Homo sapiens: one gene and its partners. The protein of the gene in region 4 purifies or fractionates together with the protein of the main gene of each other region. This does not show direct contact. Each region holds a gene or a part of one and is shown on either strand. Other genes may lie near its edges. The genes, in order: ATIC, TKT, MRPL13, GLO1, QDPR, HSD17B14 and PPA1.

Region 1 (3,500 bases), on a different chromosome or scaffold from region 4:
AACTCCCATGCAGAAGAATTCTAGGTAATTTACATCAATACTCCACCTTTAAGATGGGTATAACTCCCAGTCCTTAAGTGTGGCCTGTACACAGTGACTTGTGCCATGTCCTCTGGCTGCTCAGCTCGTTTGGTTCCTGCTAATGTTTATGTTTCACACGGGCAGTGCTGTGGGATGGGCTGAGCTCCGGTAGGCAGGGGTGCTCTGGAATTCCTCATTTATGTGTTATGTGTCATGTGTCAGTTCAAAGAGCCTGCATCTTTAACATAAAACACAACTACCAAAAACTATGGATCCAGTGATTAAGAGATACTGTTTTATTTTTTTAAAAAGTTATCCTCAAAGTTTCAGGCGTGACTGTTCACCTACACATAAGCAAGCCAAAAAACAGTGTGTGGTAAAATCAGTGGTGGAAGAGCCGAAGGTTCGTATGAGCGAGGATGATTCCCAGTTCGTCGCAGGCCTCAATCACAACTTTGTCAGCAGCAGAACCGGAGGGAGCCGCAATGTACGCCACACCACTCTGGGGGAAGTATATTGATTTTCAAAACGCGATTTTATGTAAAAACCTGCAAAACTCAAAATCCCCCTCTAAAAAGCATATGCTAACAAAGATACACTCAGTCAAAAAGGCAAAATAACAACAGGATTTGGGTTCTCCATCCACCCAATGGAGAAGTCAAATGGTTCTCTGAATATTACTGATCTGTATCACTTTGCCACACCTTTTAAAAATCAAAAGCAGGATTTCTGAAACAGTTTCTACATAATGCTCAACTCTAAGCAAATGCACCCAATTCCATACTTACCCTTTTAGCTCTGTCTACGTTATCTCGGAAAGGGAAGAAGGCATCAGAGCTGATAGAAACTTCAGTCAGTTTCTCAACCCATTCCTTCTTCTCTGCCTCAGTGAGTAACTCAGGGACTTCCTCAAACAGTGCCTTCCACTTTATCAAATCTTCATCCTATGCGGGGAGAGAGAAAGGAAGAAGCTTGGTCTGACATCGTCTTTAGTTCTATGTGGTGCAAATCACCATGCCAGAAAGCACCTGGGCATTTTTCTTAGGACTTGTTTTTATTATTATTATTATTTTTTTTTTTTTAGACGGAGTTTTGCACTATCACCAGGCTGGAGTGCAGTGGTGCGATCTCGGCTCACCGCAACCTCCACCTCCCAGGTTCAAGCAATTCTCCTGCCTCAGCCTCCCAAGTACCTGGGACCACAAGTGCACACCACCACACCCAGCTAATTTTTGTATTTTTGGAGACAGAGTTTCACCATGTTGGCCAGGAGGGTCTCAATCTCTTGACCTCATGATCCACTCACCTCGGCCTCCCAAAGTGCTGGGATTATAGGCATGAGCCACCGCGCCCGGCCAGGATTTCTTAATTGTAAATAATGACCATTATTTACATGGAAGTTCACATATCTAGAATCTCTTTGATGCTTTTAGAAATATTTTCATTAAGGAAAAAAAGTGATTCTAAGTTTACCAAATAAAGATAATACCATTTTACTTTCCAAATCAGTTTATTCCAAGTACATATGTAATTTTTTTTATTTTTGGCTAAGCTACTTACATAAAAATACACTGTTTTAAAATCTCTAATTTAAATCTACTTCGTATCTACTACTTTATGTCTATTAGACTACCGTCTAATTTAAATCTACTGCTTTGGTACTACTGTAGCAAAGAAAGCAAATAAAAATTGTGTTCCAAGGGTTTTCAAAAAAACCCTCTATATCCAATCTAGGAAAGAGATGAGTAGTTCTTTAACTACATTTATACAAAAATTATTCTAAATGTAAAGGCAGTTGTAGACAAAACACAATTCATAATATTTGCTATGGTTTGAGTGTGTGTATCCACTCCAAAATTCATGTTGAAACTTAATCCCCAATGCAACAGTATTAAGAAGTATAAGGCCTTTAGAAAGTTATTGGGCAATGAGGGTGGGGCCCTCATGAATGGATTACAGACTTATAAAAGGGCTTCAGGGGAAGTATGCCCCTTCTGTGAAGTAAGGACACAGTGTTTGTCCTTTCCAGAGAGGGCTGTGCCATCTGGGAAGCAGAGGGTAGGCCTCCCCAGACTCTCAGCCCACCAGTACCTTGATCTGGGACTTCACAGCCTCCAGAACTATGAAAAATAAATGTCTATGGTTTATAAGTTACCCAGCCTGCAGTATTGTGTCATAGTGGCACAGACAGTTAATCATATTTTACAAGGTGCTTCTATCTTGGGTCATGTTTTAGCTTTGACATACTTTTATTCTTGTTCACTTCCAGGACTCTTTCAGGACTAGTAGCAGGGGTTGACTGGTAATATCAAACAGAAAAATCCAAGTATCAAAGTTGAAAAAAAAAAGATATCTTAAGGACTTCAGTTACATTCTGCAGCCTCACTCTTCAATGACACTTATGTTGATTCCTGCTCCTGAATAAAAAACTGAGGGTAGTCAATTGGCTCTTCAGAAGACCATCTAGTATTTGATTAGCAGCCTTCTGTTTTCCATCCAGCATTTTGTTAGGCACGCAATATGTCCAGAAACTGGGCTAGATCTTTTCTTCTGGCGGGCTACCTACCTAACGTTTGCGATTGTAATGTTCCCACATACCTTCTTCAAACAGAAGAACATGAAATGTAACAAAATGTATCAAGTTATTAATGGCACATGTAGAAAATGTGGTGGGAGAAGACCCCAGGGTTACCTGCCGTCAGGCAATTTGTATTTAATGTTGAATACAGACCCATCGGACAGCAAGCACCATGCATGACGTGGTGGCAGGCACCTCGACGTAGGTGAAAAGCAGTCCTTGTCATCAAAAGCTTATAATCAACAGGGGAAGTACAAATATACAAACCTACACCAAGGCTGCAATTTAAAAAGACAGAGGACTGTGGTTTCAGAAAGGGGTCAAAAACAATGAAGAAAGTTACATGAGACAGAAGAACATGAGAAATGTGTAAGAAGTTTCAATGATCAATTTTAGACAACATAGAATTTCAATGAAAGTATCTTTTTCTCTGTGTGGTGATGAAGTTAAAATCTGTTACACATAAAGGGTTGAACTGAATATTAACACAGCCGAGAACCCAATGCCAAGTCTTTCACCTCGCCAATGGTTCCAGTCACATATTGATCGATGGCATTGGAGATTTCTGCTCTCTTCACTCCTGTTTTAAACTTCATCGAAAGCACTTGTGGATGGTGTCTAAGCCACCAATAGTTTGCCTTATCTCCTGCAAGGCGAGTGCAGTGTATACGAGACTGCTGTCCTGCTCCAATGCCGATAACCTGAGGAACACAGACATTAAAGTGAACACCTCTTCCAAAGACACTTTCTTCTCAAAAGGATCTTTTGTGCACATTCTCCAAAACCTATTTATTAGTTTTGTGGAAGAACATATCAGGCCAAAATAAGAGAAATATAAATAATTTTTAAGTCATTAAAAGGGGTGGAGTAAGAGGTTTGTTTATAACTACTATTTATACCT
Region 2 (3,500 bases), on a different chromosome or scaffold from region 4:
GGTTGGACTTGAGTAAGAAGGAAGGAGGGGCCCAGGAGAGATCTAGCACAGAAGACTCAGCCCAAGGCTAGCACTGCGGCTGGGGGCAGCTGCTGTCAGGTAGAACCCAGTTCCCACCTAGTGGCCCCCAGGAGTCTAAGGACTCAGCAGCCAAGGGGTGCCGGCATTCCTACGACTGACCCCACATCCTGACAGGACTGCCCGGACACTGCCCACTTGTGAAGGGCACCCTGCCCTCTCAGCACCCAGGGGTGCTGGGCCTCTGAGCCCATGGGGCAGGGAGGAAGGGACTGAGGCTCATGGAGTTACCACAGACCTCCCAGCAGCCTCCACGCATGGGGTGTGGTAGCCTGAAAAACTGGGCCTTGGGCTTTCCAATTGCATCACTGGGCTACTTGAAAGCTTTAGAAATGGGCAGTTTGAGGGCTGCTGTAGCAACTAGGAAACAGGCTTTTGTGTAGAATTTTCAAAGCAAGACACATAATCTCATCTCCTACAAGGCTACAATCATGTATTAATAAAAACCCCTTCTGCCTATGGACAAGGGCTGAGGAAGGGCTGACAAAGCAAGAACCTGCCTTCCAGCCTGGGAGTGGTGGGGCCACGGAGTCCCCTTGGCTTTTTAGACTTGTTTTAATCACTGAGCGGCTCCTGAGCAATAGAAAGCGTAAACTTTCTATTGCTTCCTGCTTCCCAGCAGGAAGCGCTGCAGGTCCTGATCAGCCCTGAAGCCCTCTGGTCCCAGGGTTTTGTTAAAAGTTCAGCCTCAGGGCACAGGCCTCCCGGGAGGGCCCCTCCACATGCAGCTCAGCTCAGCTCAGCTCAGCCCTCTCGCTGCTCCCAGAGGTCCTTCACACGAAGACACGCCGCATGCCAAGCCCAAGGGCACATGCACCATCTGGAGCTCACGCCGCCAGCCTCCCGCCCCTCCAATCAGCGCTCCCACCAGGTTAGGGGTGAGTCACGCTCAGTGCAGACAAGTTAGTAGTAGAGAAATCCAGAAAACTGTCCATGCTGGTTTAGTACCAACATTCTCGCACACGATCATCTTATACTTAACTATTTCTATGAACTCCCGGTCATGGGAAAAGACACTACACCTGAAAGAGGGAGGGGAGGACATGGTAAACGAGAAACCCTTTTCTGCCTGGCAGGGACCCTAATCCCACGCTCCCAGTGCCAGCTTCAACTGGAGGCCACCCTAATCCCACGCTCCCAGGGCCAGCTTCAACTGGAGGTCACCTCAGGCTGACCTCTCGTCCTTCCCACCTCCAAGGGCAGCCCCGGCCCTGAGGGGTCCTGTTTCTAAAGCCATGGTCCCATTAGGAGGGATCCTTGGTGGGAGAAGGATGTGGGTGGACACTGGGCCAAACTGTTCCGGGGAAGAACAAGGACGGTAAGTGCAGGGCTCCACCTGCCCCATCCACCTCGACACCCCGGGGTGACAGTCCCATTGGCCACCAGAAGGGGTTCCAGGGAGAAATGGTGTGGCACAGGCTCTTTCTGTGTGTGGCAGAAGCACACCCAGGCCCAGATAGAGTAAACGTGGAGAGAGGAAGGTCAGCTGCGAGGTGACCAAGGGTGAGAAGTAGAACGTGCAGCTGATTTTAAGCCTTCCTTGCTAGGCCTGCAGCCTTTCATTCCTTCCAAAGGCTGCATCCAGCCTGCTGCGGCCACTCTCTTCACTTCTACCAAGTAAACACGCACAAAAGAAGAACGCTTAGGAGCCAGGTGTCCCCGCACTCTTCCCCAGAGCTTTTGGGGCTCTCCCTCGGCAGAGCATCCTGGGTTGGGGAGGTGAGCTGTGCCACTTGGGCTTCGTGACTTCAACAAGTGCTTCGTCAACCCGGGGCTCAGCTTCTTCACTTGGGAGAGTGTCTGGGAGACACAGTGAGATAACGCAGCATGCACAGTACCCAGGTCTCTAGCAGCCGCCACCACTGCCAACCCTCTCAGCACCTGCAGCTCTTATCTACAGGCAGGGATGGTGACACCACCCACTCCTGCTGGCCACAGGCAGGCAAGAGGGGAGAAATACACCAAGGATTGAGACCGGGCTCTGCACACTGTAAAGCACTGAGCACACAGGAGACAGTTACTTTCAAGCTCAACTTCCTAGCGGGCCTTTGGGGCCAAAGGCATACATTTAAGCCTGTGGCCTCCTCAGGGCCAGAGTTTTTCCTGCCATTCCAGACTGCCTGCACAACTGCAGGTGGACGCCCCATCCCGTGGTGCTGTGTGTGACAACTCTGGGTGAACACTGGCGAGAGATGGGGTGAGGAGCACGGTGGAGGGGCTACAGGGTACTTACTGTATACCCTGACTCTGTGATAAACAGGGCTAACAAGCACACTTGACTGTTCAAAAAAAAAAAAAAAAAACTAACACACCCTGCCTTGACCAAAACAGTCCACTTACAACCCCAATTAGTTCAACCTGTGACGGTGGTGTGGCAAGCTTAGAGCTAGGCCCAAAGAAAGTCTCTTAAAGCCCCCTCCAGGCTGGGGGCAGTGGCTCACACCTGTAATCCCAGCACTTTGGGAGGTCAAGGCAGGCGGATCACCTGAGGTCAGGAGTTTAAGACCAGCCTGGCCAATATGGTAAAACCCCATCTCTACTAAAAATACCAAAAAATTAGCCAGGTGTGGTGGTGGACGCCTGTAATCCCAGCTACTCGGGAAGCTGAGGCAGGAGAATCACTTGAACCTGGGAGCCAGAGGTTGCAGTGAGCCAAGATTGCACCATTGCACTCCAGCCTTGGCAACAAGAGTAACACTCCATCTCAAAAAAAAAAAAAAAAAAGCCCCCTCTCCACTCCCCTCCAGGACAATATATATTCTTCCAGATGTCCCCTGGCCAGGAGAATCTCTGTCATCGCTTTAGTGCTCACTCCACCTGCTCACAGGTTTCTATGCAAGAAAAGGCCAGAGAGGCTCCCTCACCCTCCAGATGGGCTCCTTCAAGAGATAATGGATGTCAGGTTGGGCGCGGTAGCTCACACCCGTAATTCCAGCACTTTGGGAGGCCAAGGCAGGCAGATCACCTGAGGTCAGCGGCTCAAAGACCAGCCTGGCCAACATGGTGAAACCCCGTCTCTACTAAAAATACAAAAATTAGCCGGGCGTGGTGGCACATGCCTATAATCCCAGCTACTTGGGAGGCTGAGGCAGGAGAATAGCTTGAACCCCGGAGGCGTGGGTTGCAATGAGCCGAGATCATGCTACTGCACTCCAGCCTGGGCAACAGAGTGAGACTCTGTCTAAAAAATAATAACAATAATGAAAATAATTTACCAAAACTGACTCAAGAAGAAATAGAGAACCTAAGTAATCTTTCAAGCATTAAAAATAAACCAGATCAGTAGCCGAAGATGCACATCCCTTAACTCCCAGCAACTTCACCAGTAGGAACATACAGTGAAATGTACTCACATGTTCCACACATTCTACAGGAAACACAAACAGGCCGGGCACAGTGGCTCACACCTGTAATCCCAGCAC
Region 3 (3,500 bases), on a different chromosome or scaffold from region 4:
AAATTCAGTTCCTTAGTCACATTAGCCACAGTGCAAGGGCTCAAGAGCCACACGTCAACAGTAGCTAATGTATTTGAAGCTCGAATAGAGAGTTACCTCCCTCCCTCCATCCCTCCCTCCTTCCTTCCTTTCTCTCTCTTTTTTTTTTGAGATGGAGTTTTGCTCTTGTCACGCAGGCTGGAGTGCAATGGTGCGATCTCGGCAACCTCCGCCTCCCGGGTTCAAGCAATTCTCCTGCCTCAGCCTCCAGAGTAGCTGGGATTACAGGTGCCCACCACCATATCCGGCTAGTTTTTTTTGTATTTTTATTAGAGATGGGGTTTCACCATGTTGGCCAGGCTGGTCTTGAACTACCAACCTTAGGTGATCCACCGCGCCAGGCTTCCCTCTCCCTCTCCTCCCTCTCCCACTCCCTCTCCCTCCCCTTCTCTCGACAAGTCTTGCTCTGTTGTTCAGGCTGGAGTGCAGTGGCATGATCATGGCTCACTGCAGCTGCAAACTCCTGGGCTCAAGAGATCCTCCTGCCTCAGACTACCAAGTAGCTGGGACTACAGGTGTGTGCTAACACACCTGGCTAATTTTTTTGTTTTTTGTTTTTGTAGAGACAGGGTCTTGCCATCTTGCCCAGGCCGGTCTTGAACTCCTGAACTCAAGAGGTACTCCTGCCTTGGCCTCCCAAAGTGCTAGGATTATAGGCATGAGCCACCATGCCTGGCTGAGAGTTGTTTTCATCATTGTAGAAAGTTCTACTCAAGAGCCTTGAAGTAAATGATCATCTATTTCTTAGATAAGCTTTTGGTTAATCCAAAAATGACTATATTTTTCCTGGTCACACACTTTTCACGTAATAAAGACTAACTGGACTTGATGTCAGCTCAAATGTGCAGGGAGAAAGAAATACAGAATGATTTATATTAAATGACTAGTACACCTATACTATCCATACGTTTCAGTAAACGTATACCTATTTTACTATTTTGAAAATACAAGTTAACATATGCGTGTGACTATTTATGAGGAAAAAATCACAACCTTAATAAAGCATAAAGGAAAACCTAGTGTCTAATGCATATTCCTGCCTCAGGGAAATCTGGAATGAAGAGAGAGGGCAGGAAAATCTATTCCCAGAGTAGTAACTAAAAAATGCATCTAGTGGCTCTAAGTTTCTCTAAAAATCTCCTTAAAAATAGCTATAGAAAAGCCCTTTCTAATTCTATTAATAAAATGAAGGCACTCAGGCACTTTCTAATTTGTTTCAAAAGAAAGCAGAAATCATTCAGCAGAATGAAAATTTTGGTCAGTACTCTGACTATAATAACACTAAATATAATTTGTGAATTATTATATTAGTGTGGTGCCAGTTTAACTGATTTAGAATACACTTTAGAATATTCATGAAATATGACTTCAAGTGTATAATATGTATTTGCACATACATGATTTAACAGCAACTTTATTATTTCTAATTTTAAAAAAAAGAGTACCACACCCCTCTTGGTCAGGAATATAAATTCATTTATGATGGTGTTTCTGTAAGAAAATCAGATACATATTTACAGAACTGTTATAGGAAGGTAACCTGTCAAAACTTCAAGGACAACTTAAAATGTTTTTAGTATATAACTTATCAAAGCTGAATATTTTCAAACTACATCAACTTAAGTACATTTACAATAAAACTCTACACTAGCAAGCATGTTAAAATGGTATAGAATTTGCAATAGCAAAAAAATTCTCCTATTAAAAACTTAGTCAACACTTCAAGTGTGCTAAGTTGCTCACTTACTCCTTCCAGCAATTCTCAGAAGTATGGAGTGGCTCTAATTTACAACTGAAGAAACTGAGTTGAGATGAAGAAACTAAGGCTCAAAATGAAAGATGACTTACTTAAGGTTATAGAGTCAGCTACTATAGAGGCAAGATTTGAACCTTGGTTTGGATTTTTCTAAAACTTAAGCTATTCATGAAAATTTCACAATTAATTTTTAGGGAAAGAGCTCATGTCTTCATTCTTTCCAAAACACTTACTGAGTGCCCATTATGCACCAAGTACTATTTCTAAGGGTTTCTAAGTATTTCTAAGATGTAAATGTTGAACCAGACAATGTCCCTGCCCCCTTGAAGCTGACATGCCAATGCAAGAAGGGGCATTCCAGCAGAGTTAGGAGCATGACCCAGCAGCTAGTCACTCAGGCTTGAATCCTTAATATACCATTTATAACTATGTGATATTAGTCAAGTTGCTTTATCTCTCTGTGCCCATATTTTCTCATTTAAAAAATAAAAATAAAAATAAAAATTGTACTGACTCACTAGATTGCTCTGAGGATTAGTAGATTAATACATGTAAAGCACACAATAAATGCTTTATTAGTGCTTGCTATTTTTATTATTGCCATGAGTGTAGAGAGACAAATAACAGACACACATATAAATGAGAGTACAGTAGATAGTGATAAATGCTGTGAAAAAAATGAAAAGTGGTCTTTGCTTCATATTTTCTAGAGATTCTTTCCTAAAGTCACTTATAAAAGCTGATAAAAGTCTTAATTAATTTATTCAATAAATACTGGCTGAGTGTCTATTTAATTTGTCCAGCACCATGCTCAGTGCTAAATAAGACAAACATGTAGCTCCCTCATGAAGTCTAGCAAGAAAGACAGATAGTAAACAGATAATCACACAAATATATAATTAGAGTAAATCAGTAAATGGAAGTGTACGATGAGAACCCATAATGAGAGCCTAACCCGGTTCAAAGATTACAGGAAGGACTGCCTGAGGAAGTTACACTTAAATGCTTCATCATCTGGATAGCCCTGGCAAAAAAGCCTAGAAACAACTAGATGGGAGAAAGAATGTTACATCTTAGCAGCTTTACGGCCTTAGGTAGAGGAAACTGTACAGAGGAGAGCAAAAAGTATTTTTTTATTTTGTTTTTCTTTTTGGACCAAGACAACAAGTATCCAAAATTAATGACTTTTCATTAGATAATATTTTTAACTTATGAAACAATGTGGAAAACTGAGAATCATTACGTTTTAGATTAATAACAATTCATATATCATTCCTAAAGACTACCATCAGCCCAAACAAAATACTTGATAATTATAGGAACCTATGAACATCCTCGCACTTATCTAGCAAGGTCTTAATGCTTAAAAATTTTTGGTTCTAATACCTACATCTAGAGTTTATTTGTAGGTAGTAGCTGCTGAGTTCCCAGGGGAGCAAAAAAATGAGTTCACTCTTCCCGCCCTCAAGGATCTTATTTAATCATATGGTTGAGGAAACAGAGGATATCAAAAGAAAAAAAAACAAGAAGAAGGGAAACACTTACGGAGTCCACAATCTTGGGAAGGCGTCTATTTCTTCTTGTGTGTACTCATCTAGACGTTTAGGTATTTTTCGTGGTTGAGGAAGCTCCTCTACTAAATTCTTAAGAATATCTTCTGGAATATACTACATTAAAAAAAAATTTAGACTTAATTTTCTTAAAA
Region 4 (3,500 bases):
TCTCCCCAGAGATAACTGCTGTCCAGTTTCTTGTGATTTTTTTCTAGAAAAAGGTATTATGAATATATTTATGACATATTTAAAGGACAAAATGAAAACAGATTTATTGAACACTTTTGCCAGGCACTTCAAATGTTATTTTGTTCAGTCTTCACACCAGTCTTAGGAGGTAGCTTTTATCCCCATTTCACAGACGGAGAAACCAAAGCTTAATGAGATGAAGTTACTAGCTCCAAATCCCACAGTTGGCATATGGCAGGGCTGGAACCTGTATCCATTGTCTGATGGGCTCTAATGTAGACTTCCTGTGCAGAGCCCCCAAATAGGGTACAAGTTGACAGTAAGCTGGAAGATTTGAACAGCTGAGAAAAGCAAGTTGCAACAGTTTCATTTCCTTCAGTCCCAACTGATTGGTCCATGAGGGTTGTGTAGTCTGCTTTAGTAGGTGCAGAGATTGTTTTTCATGATTGGAGTATTTGAGGTGTTTGATACTTTATTATAAACATGTTAGAGTAAATCTTATTTGTGATAAGTCAATGCAAGGATCTAAGTGGGCCAAGGTCTATTATATAGCAGTGATAATGAAATAAAAGATTGGAAGCAGAACTCTAGAAACTTTCCATTTGCTATATGGCAATAACAGCCATTTGCTCTTATTGATTATGAACAAAGTCATCTTTGAATAATCTAAAGAAAATCATATATGCATTCTCATGCCACCTTACTCCTTGCCAAATAATCCTATACCATTTAAAGTCATTTAAGGTTCAGGACTTCAGTTATCTTTCTTAAAACCTCAGGATTCATAATTCATTCACTCTCTCTCCCATCAGTCTCTTCTACTGTCTCTTTCCCCTCAGAGAAGCGTAAGTCTTCTTTGTTCCAGAATATTTCTTGCCCTCTGCTCCTTCGCCTACCTCCCCATTGTCACTGCCATGCTTGCTACTGTTTTACCTGCTCACCTGCCATTCTCTCTCCCCAGTACAGTGTAATCCAGCTGATGCTTCCCCACTCTGCTGACATTGCTCTCATGGGACCTTTCCATATCTCATGACCTTTTCTTAGTCTTAATACTGTTTGACCTTTCTACAGTATCTGATACTGTTAGCCACCTTACTGTTGACATTCACGTCTTCTGTGATACTAGTCTGTCCTTCCTCCTTCTTTCTTACCACCTATCCTTAATTTCCTTTCCTAGATGTTTTGGCATAGTAAGAACTCAATAAATGTGTTTATTTAACTGAATGACATATTTATATATGTGTTTGTATGTGTGTATATATATGAAATAGCAACAAGGTTCTTTATATTTTTCAGTACAAATAAACACAGTTCTCTTTTGGAGATAGCCGTTTCTATTTATTAACAAGTACCATAATTTCAGCTAAATGTTACTATATTTACAGAATTGATGAATTACAGAAGTTTTCATTTTTGTATTTCAAATATTTACAGATGCATTTTTCATGATATTTTTTCACTGATTTTTCCTCCTGCTTATTCCATTAAAATAGGCTTACTACATATAGCTCTTCTTTTTAGTAAAACTTGAATATTAAGTTATGTTGATTATAGTATGAATTAGCCTTTCCTGTTGTTAATGATTCAGGCTTGTTGTTTTTTCATTGCAGGCTAATCCAAAAATGTGATTTTCCCATTATGAAGTTTTCACTCTACTTCTTGGCTTATGAGGATAAAAATGACATCCCTAAAGAAAAAGATGAAAAAATAGCCTGGGCGCTCTCCAGAAAAGCTACACTTGAGCTGACACAGTGAGTATGAGTTTCTATATTTATATATATTATAGATTTTTTAAGGTAGTTTTTAAAAATCTTTTTTGTTTTGTTTACTGACCAGTATAATTCAAACCAGATCTGCCTATGACTTCACATTTTTAATAATATATTGAAGTGTTTTTCATGCATCTTTTGATCTTTGTATTGTTCTTGGGCAAATGAGATGTGTTTTTTTTAGAGACAGGCTCTCTGAAGCCTCTAACTTCTAGGTAGTCTTCCTGCCTCAGCCTCCTGAGCACCTTGGACTACACATGTGTGCCACCACACCCAGCTAGTTTTTGTTTGTTTGTTTTTGGTAGAGGCATAGAGGCAAGGTCTCACTATGTTGCCCAGGCTGGTCTCAAACTCCTGGCCTCAAGTGATCCGCCCGCCTCGGCCTCCCAGACTGCTGGGATTATAAGCATGAGCCACCACGCCTGGCCCATTTGTCTTTTATTTTTATTTATTTATTTATTTATTTTTTGAGACAGAGTCTTGCTCTGTTGCCCAGGCTGGAGTGCAGTGGCGCGATCTCGGCTCACTGCAAGCTCTGCCTCCCGGATTCACTCCATTCTCCTGCCTCAGCCTCCCAAGTAGCTGGGACTACAGGCGCCCGCCACTACGCCCAGCTAATTTTTTGTATTTTTTGTAGAGACGGGGTTTCACCATGTTAGCCAGGATGGTCTCGATCTCCTGACCTCGTGATCTGTCTGCCTCGGCCGCCCAAAGTGCTGGGATTACAGGCGTGACCCACCACGCCCGGCCTCCATTTGTCTTTTAGATAAGAGAATATAAGACCCTGAAATTGTAAGATATTTGCCTGTTTGTCTCTAACTAATTTTTAGGTACTATAATTAGTCTTTCAGCATCCAAAATTTTGTTCTTTTATTATTTTGCTACATTTTGGATCCAGAAATGTGATATCATGTGTTCCTTTAAAAATTCTTCAAACCATTTTGTAATAATTAACATTCAAATTTGGTATTTTTATAACTTGAGCACTTAAAAATGTAGGCAATTTCTTTACATTGTTTATCTGCATACTTTAAAAGAGATTGATTTCAGAGTGTGTGATTTCGTGTGTCCCTTGATTCAAAATAAAGCTTTGGAATCAGGCAGGCTTAGATATGAGTCTGTGACTCTAAACAAGTAAGTGGCAGTTTCATCAATAGAATGGAGATGTTCACACCTAGCCCATGGAGCTGTTTTAAGGGTTTAAATGAAATATAAAGTACTTAGCACAATAAATGAGCATTATTATTATTCTTATTATTGTTCTTGTCCAGTACCTGTATTTACTGTCTCTTTAGTCTCGTTAAAATCATACTTTGGCCATTTGTCCTTTCTATAGTTGAAAACTTAATATTTTTGTAGCAGGGGTTAGGCCAATTATGTAAAGTAGCATATAAACGTGGTAAGATTTCAAAGATGTTACTTGCTTTTCAGAATATCTATTCCCTAGGACATTGTAGCTATGTTTTCCTTCCTTTTGTAGCAATTGGGGCACTGAAGATGATGAGACCCAGAGTTACCACAATGGCAATTCAGACCCTCGAGGATTCGGTAAGTTTGCCTGTTTTTATGTGATATATGTAGATTTGTGTGATTTTGTATTATGTATATAATTATGATTTTAATAAACCTAAAACATTAATGTCCTAATTAAGTATGATCAATTTATTAGAGATATGATTATTTTTATTTTCCACAAATAATCTTATTTAG
Region 5 (3,500 bases), on a different chromosome or scaffold from region 4:
TGGCCAATAAATTTTACAAAATAAACCTGGAGTTTACTGATTTGCTGGACTGGCTTTAATTCAAAGATTGTTTTATTTTATGAATGGTATCAGATTTGTAATAAGAACCTATATGTCTACGTCAGGTTTTCTCTGTGATAAAAATCCAAGGGCCTATTACTGTACAGCTATAAAGAGAGCTTTTACTGAGCTACATATTTTATGTCTGAAAGTTTAATGTTAGCTTTAAAGACTCTTCAAAAGAAAGCTAAAATAACAACCATTTTACACTTGTTTTAACTCCCCGGCCTTGCCAGAGACATAAGGAAGAACAAATGGTAACATATGTCACACCACCAACTGGGCAACTCGAAGGGCATGTGGTACCTGGTGATCAAAAAAGGATGTCCTCCTGATATAGGAGGGGTTGGTAGGTGATAAACAAGAAATTGCATTTCCCCACTAAAAAAGACTAGGAAAAAAACCTGATGGATCCACATTTATCATTTCTTGCTCCCAAAACATACAAAAAGGTTATCAAGCTGTTTTGCTAACCTGATCACCTCACAAAGCACCACTCTCACATTGACATGTGGGTCACAGAATGTCAACGTCTTTTTAAATGGCTTTGGCTAATAAATGTAGAAGGGATGACAGAATTAGAAAACTACCATTTTCCAACCCCTGAATAAGTGCTTCAGGCAGAGATTATCAACGAAGGACTAAAACCACTGGGTGAAAAGTATAATACTTGGGAAACAGGACATTCACACACAATACCACAATACCACACATCCCACAGATGACTGACTTACTGCAAACAGAAAAAAAGTACCTTTATAATGGAAGTCTGGCAGTTGCCATCTCAACCAAGCATCAAATTTGGCATCCCTAAGGGTAGGGCAAGCTGCCATGCTGAGCTTCCCAGGTGATGTCATATAAGGTACACACCATCACTCAGGAAGAATTCGCACCACAAGAATGTTTATGCTAAATCTAACTGAGTCTCTAGACCCAAATTCCAGTTCACGGGGAATACCAAGGATAGAGGAACAAGTCAAACAACCCCTTAAAGAAAAGTTCAGACAAGTTCAGAATGTGAGACATGCTATATGAAAACTCCCAAGGACTTGACAAAAAGTCTTATCACAGGGGATTTTTTTAAAAATTCTAGATTTTCTAGATTAAGAGACTAAAAACAACATAATGCAGTACATAAACCTTGAGTGGAATATGTTTAGGGAAAAAGAACTATAATAGACATGGAATAAACTGGGGAAATTTGAATATGGGCTCAATATCATTAATCTTAGATAATCACTGTTAACTTTCTTAGGTACAATGGTACCATAATAATGTAGGACGGGCTTATTCTTTGGAGAAACACGCGGAAATATAGTGAGGTGTAAACTTATTTTCAAACAGTTAACAAAAAACAATGCACAAAGTACACAGGCACAAGAAAACAAGCTCAACTCAAGTACAGCAAATGTTAACAGTTACTGAATCTAGATGGAGCATATAAGGGTGTTCATTGAACTGTTCTTTCAACTTTTCTGGTATGCTTAGAAATGTTCATAATGAAAAGTTGAAAAATGGGCCAGGCGCACTGGCTCACGCCCGTAACCCCAGCACTTTGGGAGGCTGAAGGGGGTGGATCACCTGAGGTCAGGAGTTCAAGACCAGCCTGGGCAACATGGTGAAACCCCGTCTCTACTAAAAATACAAAAAATTAGCTGGGCTTGGTGGTGGGCACCTGTAATATCAGCTACTCGGGAGGCTGAGGCAGGAGAATCGCTTGAACCTGGGAGGCAGAGGTTGCAGTGAGCCGAGATTACACCATTGCACTCCAGCCTGGTGACAGAGCAAGACTCTGTCTTAAGAAAAAGGGTAGGGGAGTAGAGGGGAGGGGAGGGAAGGGAAGGGAAAAGAAAAGATGAAAAAAGGAATCAGCTTTAGTAAAATCTCAAGTTTGACTTCTTCTGACTTTCTAAATGATCTCTGCACTTCCTACACATCCTCCAATGCCTGAATAGCACATGGCCTGGGGCACAGGCCATGCTGATTTCATTCTGCCTCTACTTTAAACTCAAACTCAATGCCCCCCGTCCCCTCACGTCCTCCAGGGGAAGCTTCTTCTTTATCCGTAAAATGGATTAAGAGCATTAATCACTCTCTCCCCGAGCAACTGTAAAGATTCCGGGATATACACAAAAAAACAGCTGGCCTGTCACCTAGTGCAAACCCAATCCTTGTCAGCTGGAAAAAGAGCAGAGCAGAACAAATGAGTGACTCAGGAAAGGACTCACACTTGGATTTGGCATTGCCCCCGGCCCATCCTCCAGCAACGCAAAGAATTGCATCCACCTTCTCTTCACCCAAGAGCTTTCCAACCTCAGCAGTCACCTTCAACACAAGAACAAAAAAATGTATAAACTGTAAGGTAAGCCAACACAGGCTAGCATCTTTACGGATACTCAGTTTCTTTTTCTCTTCTTTTTAAGCCAGTTTACAGTACCTGGCAATTAATGCTTTGAGAATTAGACGGAAGACTAAGCTCTGATGAGCATTTTAGACATTGAAGCCCAAGTACACTTCAGTGTGATTTTTAAAAAACAATCTAGAGTCTCTGTGTATACATTCTGAAAGGTAGAGACATGAGCATCCCTTGAAATACAACAATTAATAAATAAAAGTAGGGAAAGGTTAAAAAAAAAAGAAAAAAGCACCTAGAGCTTCACTGCCTGCACATAGTTAACATCCTGGTGTATTTCTTTCCAGACTCTCTTCACAAATCACAGAATTATAATCCAAAAAGAAGATCAACCCTGTTTTCCCCACCCCAATCCAAAAATCCCTTTAACTGCAACTCTGAAAAAAATGCCAACGAAAAATTGTAAGAAAAATCATGAGCCAAGAAAAAATACAGTCAATAGCAATATGTTGGTAATATTAAGTACATGGGGGTTCACTTTAATGATCTCTCTGCTTCTGTTTGTTTGAGATTTTAAAGCATTGAAAATATATGTATGCCCTCTTGTTATAATTTATGAAAAGAACAGTCTGTCAGGACAGGCAATTCTGGCCATCCACCACGACTCTTCCGTATTTCTCTGGAATGGCTGAGATGACAAATCCCAATTGCTTCATTAAGATCAATCTTCTTAAGATTTCTTTTTTTTTTTTTTTTTTTTTTGAGATGGAGTTTCGCTTGTCTCCCAGGCTGGAGTGCGATGGCGCCATCTCGGCTCACTGCAACCTCCACCTCCCCGGTTCAAGCGAATCTCCTGCCTCAGCTTCCTGAGTAGCCGGGATTACAGGCGCCTGCCACCACACCTAGCTAATTTTTGTATTTTTAGTAGAGATGGGGTTTCGCCATGTTGGCCAGGCTTGTCTCGAACTCCTGACCTCAGGTGATTCGCCTGCCTCGGCCTCTCAGAGTGCTGGGACAACAGGACTGAGCTACCACGCCTGGCCCAATCTTCTTAAGATTTAAATCAGGCTGGGCACAGTGGCTCATG
Region 6 (3,487 bases), on a different chromosome or scaffold from region 4:
AGCAAGACTCCGTTTCAGAAAAAAAAAAAAAAAAAAAAAGAAATGCACTGTTTCCTGCCACCGTTTCTCCTGCAATTCAACTCCCTGGCCACCTGGGAAGTCCCTAAATACTCTCTCTGTGTGTGTGCGTGTGTGTTCGTTGACTACACATGACCTTGGATAAACTCAAATTCTATCTTTGATCTCGCTTGCCTTAGAAAGCTGAGCTGGCCAGGCAAGGCCTGTCCCTGCCACTTAAGACTAATTGGTACAAGGCAGCACCCCTAGCAGGCTCTCCGAGTGGGAATCTAAATGAGCTCCCTGCCCGGTTCCCCCCACCAACTCTTTCAAGCCATTTCTGCTCCCCTCCCAAACGACCTCCACCCTTTTCCGTGCTGTATCTTCGACACACCCTGCGTGTTCAAACCTCAGGGCCTTTGAACTTGCTGTTCCCTCTGCCTGGAGTGCCTTTTCCTAAGAGAGCCACATGACCCACTCTTAGGGTGGCCAGCCATCCCAGTTTGCCCAGGACTGAAGGGTTTTTGGGGACATGGTATTTTCAGTCCACAGTGTCAATGCTAAACGGGGACTTTCCTGGGTAAACACTCCCTCAGCTCCCTCAAACCCTGATCCGAGGTCACCTCCTCAGTGAGGTCTTCCCTGGCTATACTGTTTAAAGCTGCAAGCCAGGATCACTAGCTCACACCTGTAATCCTTGCACTTTGGGAAGCCGAGGAGGGAGGATTGCTTGAACCCAGGTGTTTGAGGCCAGCATGGGCAGCTTAGCAAGACCCTTTTTCTTTCTTTCTTTCTTTCTTTCTTTCTTTCTTTCTTTCTTTCTTTTCTTTCTCTCTCTCTCTCTCTTTCTTTCAGATAGGGTATCACTCTGTTGTCTAGGCTGGAATGCAGTGGTGCAATCTCAGCTCATTGCAACCTCCACTTCCCAGGTTCAAGCAATTCTCCTGCCTCGGCTTCCCGAGTAGCTGGGACTACAGGCATGTGCCCCCACACCAGGATAATTTTTTTTTTTTTTTTTTTTTTTTAGTGGAGACAGGGTTTCACTATATTAGCCAGGCTGGTCTCGAACTCCTGATCTCACATGATCTGCCTGGCTCGGCCTCCCAAAGTGCTGGGATTCCAGGCTTGAGCCACTGTGCCTGGCCTGTCTTTATTTTTTTTAACAACAAAAAAATATTTTTTGTTTTATTTTTTGAGACAGAGTCTCACTCTGTTGCCCAGGCTGGAGTGCAGTGATGTCATCTTGGCTCACTGCAACCTCCTCCCCCCAGGTTCAAGCCCTTCTCCTGCCTCAGTCTCCTGAGTAGCTGGGACTACAGGCATGTGTCACCATGCCTGGCTAATTTTTGTATTTTTTAGTAGAGATGGGGTTTCACCATGTTAGCCAGGCTGGTCTTGAACTCCTGAGGTCAAGTAATCTGCCTGCTTCGGCCTCCCAAAGTGCTGGGATTACAGGCGTCAGCCACCACGCCTGGCCCCAAAAAATAAAATAATAAAATAAAACTGCAGTTCCCACACCCCTGGGTCCCCTTCCCTCTTTCAGATGTCTTTTCTCTGTGTCACACACTCCCTTCTGACAGGCCATATATATTTTACTTGTTTGTTCATGTTCTGTCTCTCCCACCAGCATGCAGAAACCTATGAGGGATGGTCAAGATTTCTTATTTTGTTTCTTCCCCAGCACTAAAGGTGCCTGGCACATAGCACATGCTTCATAAATATCCTTTGAATGAATGAATGGGTGAATTAATGAATGAATGGAGGACCTGGTATGTGTCCAGCCCTGTCCTCAGCAATTTACATGGATTAGCTCATTTCATCCCTCTAACATTCTCCTGTACCTACAAGAAGGAGGTACAGCTGAGAGTCCCATTTCACAAGCGAGGAGACTAAGGAATGGAGGGATGATTGACGCCCGCAGGGCATCACGTGACACCTGACAGCACCAGCATTTGCTGCTGGACAGGCTGAGACCCAAACCCATAAACAAACAACAATTTCTCACAATTCTAAGTATTAAGAACTTTAGGCCAGGCACAGTGGCTCACACCTGTAATCCTAGAACTTTGGGAGGCTGAGGCGGGCAGTCACCTGAGGTCAGGAGTTCAAGACCAGACTGGTCAACATGGCAAAACCCCATCTCTACTAAAAATACAAAAATTAGCCGGGTGTGGTGGTGCGTGCCTGTAATCCCAGCTACTCGGGAGGCTGAGGCAGGAGAATCTCTTGATCCCGGGAGGCAGAGGTTGCAGTAAGCCACAATCGCACCACTGCACTCCAGCCTGGGCAGCAGATAAAGACTGTCTCAAAAAAAAAGAAAAAAGAAAAAAGAAAAAGAGAAACCATGCTCTAATATGAACGTGAATGATGTGGGCATTGACCAGCCTCTGCCCTCCTCCTCAGGGAACCTCTCATCCTCGCCTCCTCTCACTCCCACCAGCCGTGACACCCTCCCTCCCTCCCAGTGCCCACCCCACCTGCCTTGCTCCATTTCTCTCTCAGTCTGTGCACCTGCCCTGCTGTTTAATCTCCTCCCCCACCTGACCCTGCAAACATGAGTCTCACCAGGGCTGAGACACGGATCTTGCCACCCTCACCCCAGCACGAGGCACACAGCTGGAGCTCAGTAAATATTTGTCCCACACTCCCTGAGTGTCCTTCTCCCCACACCCCTCAAGGTTGCTAAGCACCTGCTCTATATCAAGGACCCGCTGGGGGCCAGGTGCAGTGGCAGGTACCTGTAATGTCAGTGCTTTGGGAGACTGAGGTGGGAGGATCGCTTCAGTCCAGAAGTTCAAGGCCAGCCTGGGCAACATACTGAGACCCCAGTTCTTAAGTGCCAAGGTTCTGAGACAGGAGCAGGCCTGTTGTGTTTGGGAGCAATGAGGCCAGTGTGGCCGGAGGTGAGGTCAGAGAAGAACAGGGGCCAGATCACGAGGCCTTGAAGGCCCCCACTTCTCCCTTGGACAAATGCAATCAACTCCTTTTTTTGTTTGTTTGTTTCAGAGACAGAGTATTGCTCTGTCACCCAGGCTTGAGTGCAGTGGCACGATCTCGGCTCACTGCAACCTCCACCTCCCAGGTTCAAGCAATTCTTCTGCCTCAGCCTCCCGAGTAGCTGGGATTACGGGCGCCTACCACCACGCCTGGCTAATTTTTGTATTTTTAGTAGCAACGGGGTTTCTCCATGTTGGCCAGACTGGTTTCGAACTCCTGACCTCAGGCAACCTGCCCACCTCGGCCTCCCAAAGTGCTGGGATTACAGGCGTGAGCCACCATGCCCAGCTCAAATGCAATCAACTCCTAATACTGGTTCTCCCACTCTCACGCTTAACCCTCAGATTTGTCCCTCATACCTACAGGAGCCAGAGCCTATGATCTGTTAATAATACTAACAGGATCACATCACTCCCTTGCTCAAATACCTGCCACAGCTCCCTATTGCTCTTGACATAAAGACCAGATGATTCAGCATGCCCTTCAAGGCCCT
Region 7 (3,500 bases), on a different chromosome or scaffold from region 4:
AGTAATAACTTTTTCTAATTTATTTTGCAGAAAATGAGAAAGGACAATATATATCTCCATTTCATGATATTCCAATTTATGCAGATAAGGTAAGGCATCCTTGTTTTTGGACACAGTCTCTTTACTCAGATCAGCTAGTTCTACATATGAATTTTCTTATATGTCTCTCAACAAGTGCTTAAAATGCCTCGTTGTGCTGTGAGCTAAAGGTCTGTTGATTAGGCTGGGCGTGGTGGCTCACGCCTGTAATCCCAGCACTTTGGGAGGCTGAGGCGGGTGGAGGGCTTGAGTCCAGAAGTTCAAGAACAGCCTGGGCAACATGGTGAAACCCTGTCTCTACAAAAAATACAAAAATTAGCCGGGCATGGTGGCATGTGTCTGTAGTCTCAGCTACTTGGAAGGCTGAGGTGAGAGGATCGCTTGTGCCTGGGAGGCAGAGGTTGCAGTGAGCCGAGATGGCACTACTGTACTCCAGCTGGGTGACAGAGTGAGACCCTGTCTCAAAAAAAAAGGTCCATTGACTAAATAAGAAGTTAGTCTTAAAACTAGATTATTTAGTTAAAGGAGCAAATATAATTTGGGGAAGGAGAGGAGGAGTAAAAGCAAAAGTATTTAATCTGTCTTGGAAAAAAAAAAGAAAAAATTACATTGGTCCTTTTTGTATGTGTATTTGGAACTAAAGTCGTAATACTTCATTACTGGTTCTAAAATAAACCAGGTAGCCAGCACAGAATTTTGGCTGTGGGATCTTTATGAAACAGTAAAAGTAAACTAGATTATTCAATGAGTATAGGAAAATTTAGTAACGGGCTAGTACCGTTAAGATTTGCACAGTTAAGATAGAGTTAATACAGGTAGGCACACAGACTTCTAAAAGGACATAGCTGTTCCTGTATACACCAGTGAGAAGAAACCTAACTTTAATACAGATTGGTAGGCTTACCACAAATTGTAAAAGTCTTTACTTTTCTAGGGGAAAAAGAAGTCTACAACTGTATACACCAGAATAGCTGAGTGTGGGGCAATTGTAATCCCACTTGGGAGGCTGTGCTGGGAGGATCACTTGAGTCCAGGAGTTTGAGACCAGACTGGGCAACATAGCAAGAACCTGTCTTAGGAAAATAAATAACAATAAAATATATATCAAAATAGTTATGATTCGTGGGACTGCCAGTGACTCTTGGTTTTATTTTCATTTTTGTCTTTTTATATTGTCTAATCTTTTTACAAAGAACATGTGTTATAAGAACAACTTTAAACAGTCATTTTAAAAAACACATCTTTTCTTACTCTCCTTTCCAATGGAAGCAGTTTGTACTGTATTTAGCAACTTAACACAAGGACAAATATCTTATTCTTTTTCTACCTTTCAGTTTTTTTCCTTCAGTAAGGAAGTTTGATTCACATTGAGTACAAAGGTTTTTGAGTTGTAAGAGTTACATAGGTTATTGACTTTCTTTAGCTAGATGTCAATATACAACACGAACATCACTTTGCAGTGCACGTCTAGAATAATAGTAATTTTGTTCTTGTGTGTGCTGTCTTACTGTTTTTCTGGGCCTGACTATTAGATAGAAATAGACACATTCATTGCACTTCTACCAGGAAGTTTGCTGCAGTTCTGTACTGCCTGAAATTCCAATTTTTACATTGCTTCCCAGGAGCCTTCCTGGGTAAGACTCCAATTAGAGGCAATGGAGCAAACAGCCCTAGGCCAATTATGTGCCACAAATACAGGAGGGACTTCTAATTGGCATGTGTTTTTCCTGTGGGAGTGTCAGAGTGGTATTTATTCAGAAACTCGAATTTGTTACATCTGATTTCCTGGGAGTTGATATAAACTGCAGAATCCTTCCCTCTTCAATTGGCCCCATTGGGTTGGCTTGAATTATCTGCTTGTTGTATAATAGCATGTATATCATACTGTAGCATCTCAGACCATTTTGAGCAATGAAGAGGTATAAAATGATGACCCTAAGTTTATTGATAATACCCTGGCATACAGGTATGCTACAGGTAGGAAAACATTTTCTTGACATAGAGCTATTTTCCCAGTGTTCTAAGTGACTGTATTCCTACCAAGGACCAGAATGATCATAGATGTTTTGGTACCTACTCTTATTGCTGCTTCAGGTTACTCCAAAATAGGAAACAGGCTACATTTTGGTGTCCTGTTAAGTGTGTTCACTTAGATTACTCTCAGACACTGAAGCCTTATAAGGGACTGGTTGTGTCTATAAAGTGGATTACTCAAAGGAAGACTCTGCCCTTGGCACGCCCTGTCCCAGCTCAAAAGCACAAGTTCTTATGACTCTGGATTTTACCAGTAGTCTAGACCTCAGTGGACCTTGGGCAGAAGCCTTCCTGCCTGAGAGGCTGGAAGGAATTCTTTTGTTTTGTTTTAAAGGAAGTTACTTGTTTAAAACACAAATAAAGGTGTGGTAGACATCATTTTGGATTATAGCCTTAAAAAAAAAATCTGATTAACTTGATTCATTAGAGTGTGATTTTCTTTCTTTTGTATAAAAAATCTATTGTGATTAAGTTTACATGAATACATTCTCACGGGCTTGGCCTTGGACTTTATTCCTAATATGGTCAGTCATCCGAGGGATTATAATGAGGGAATGTCATGATCTAGTGAGCATGTACCTTTAACACAGCTCAGTCAGCTCCACTAAGGAAAAATGTCCAAGGGCTCATATTGATATCAGACTAAGGAAAAATGCCCAAGGGCTCATATCCATATCAGACTTTTTTTTTTTTTTTTTTTTTTTTTGAGATAGGGTTTCACTTTGTCACTCAGGCTGGTGTGCAGTGGCATGATCTTGGCTTACTGCAGCTTCAACCTCTCAGGCACAAGTGATCCTCCTGCTCCAGCCTCCTGAATAGCTGGAACCACAGGCATACACCACCACGCCCAGCTAATTTTTCTATTTTTTTGTAGAGACAGGGTTTCCCTATGTTGCCCAGGCTGGTCTCGAACTCCTGGTTTCAAGCGATCTGCCCACCTCAGCCTCCAGAAGTGCTGGGGTTGCAGGCGTGAGCCACTGTGTCCAACCCATATCAGGACCTTTTAATGTGGATATTCAGTTTGGCATATGCCATTAGGTAATCAGTCCAGCCAGTTCTGGAAAATCTTGTGACTCGCGTACCCTGCTTTGATTATTTCCGAATCCAGTGGGTAGAGAAGGTAAAGGCAAGGGCTCACTGGATATTTTTAAATTGTAGGGATGTCCTTTGCTCTGGGTCAATTTTAGGATCAAATATAAAAGCACCTATAGCTCAGAGTATCTTCTAACATAAAACTTCTGAGATACCAGAAATTTTCCAAAACATGGTATAAACAGTATGAAACACTGGGTAGATAAAAGCTTTCTCTAAATCTTAAAGTGCTCAAATATCATGACCTGATTTTTTAGTTTTAGAAATCAGATATTTTTCTATTCCATATCTTAAACTTTCATGTTAAATTCTAGTTCTGACAATGTAGGGTTCTA

The links.
Region 1: the proteins of GLO1 (region 4) and ATIC fractionate together in Homo sapiens (co-fractionation; one large-scale study listed by BioGRID). This does not show direct contact.
Region 2: the proteins of GLO1 (region 4) and TKT fractionate together in Homo sapiens (co-fractionation; one large-scale study listed by BioGRID). This does not show direct contact.
Region 3: the proteins of GLO1 (region 4) and MRPL13 purify together in Homo sapiens (affinity purification with mass spectrometry; one large-scale study listed by BioGRID and IntAct). This does not show direct contact.
Region 5: the proteins of GLO1 (region 4) and QDPR fractionate together in Homo sapiens (co-fractionation; one large-scale study listed by BioGRID). This does not show direct contact.
Region 6: the proteins of GLO1 (region 4) and HSD17B14 fractionate together in Homo sapiens (co-fractionation; one large-scale study listed by BioGRID). This does not show direct contact.
Region 7: the proteins of GLO1 (region 4) and PPA1 fractionate together in Homo sapiens (co-fractionation; one large-scale study listed by BioGRID). This does not show direct contact.

Annotation. Positions count from the first base shown.
Region 1 is NC_000002.12:215,346,559-215,350,058, reverse strand, and holds the end of ATIC (bifunctional purine biosynthesis protein ATIC), read right to left. Parts: intron 3,301-3,500; coding exon 3,118-3,300; intron 966-3,117; coding exon 810-965; intron 524-809; coding exon 404-523; 3' UTR 295-403; downstream 1-294. UniProt on the Homo sapiens protein: Bifunctional enzyme that catalyzes the last two steps of purine biosynthesis.
Region 2 is NC_000003.12:53,242,523-53,246,022, forward strand, and holds part of TKT (transketolase), read right to left. Parts: intron 1-3,500. UniProt on the Homo sapiens protein: Catalyzes the transfer of a two-carbon ketol group from a ketose donor to an aldose acceptor, via a covalent intermediate with the cofactor thiamine pyrophosphate.
Region 3 is NC_000008.11:120,410,651-120,414,150, forward strand, and holds part of MRPL13 (large ribosomal subunit protein uL13m), read right to left. Parts: intron 3,463-3,500; coding exon 3,341-3,462; intron 1-3,340.
Region 4 is NC_000006.12:38,682,646-38,686,145, reverse strand, and holds part of GLO1 (lactoylglutathione lyase), read left to right. Parts: intron 1-1,631; coding exon 1,632-1,772; intron 1,773-3,270; coding exon 3,271-3,338; intron 3,339-3,500. UniProt on the Homo sapiens protein: Catalyzes the conversion of hemimercaptal, formed from methylglyoxal and glutathione, to S-lactoylglutathione. Involved in the regulation of TNF-induced transcriptional activity of NF-kappa-B. Required for normal osteoclastogenesis.
Region 5 is NC_000004.12:17,502,091-17,505,590, forward strand, and holds part of QDPR (dihydropteridine reductase), read right to left. Parts: intron 2,386-3,500; coding exon 2,289-2,385; intron 1-2,288. UniProt on the Homo sapiens protein: Catalyzes the conversion of quinonoid dihydrobiopterin into tetrahydrobiopterin.
Region 6 is NC_000019.10:48,816,005-48,819,491, forward strand, and holds part of HSD17B14 (L-fucose dehydrogenase), read right to left. Parts: intron 1-3,487. UniProt on the Homo sapiens protein: Catalyzes the NAD(+)-dependent oxidation of L-fucose, yielding L-fucono-1,5-lactone, which rapidly converts spontaneously to L-fucone-1,4-lactone. Can also act on D-arabinose and L-galactose, with lower catalytic efficiency. Does not use NADPH.
Region 7 is NC_000010.11:70,226,930-70,230,429, reverse strand, and holds part of PPA1 (inorganic pyrophosphatase), read left to right. Parts: intron 1-30; coding exon 31-89; intron 90-3,500.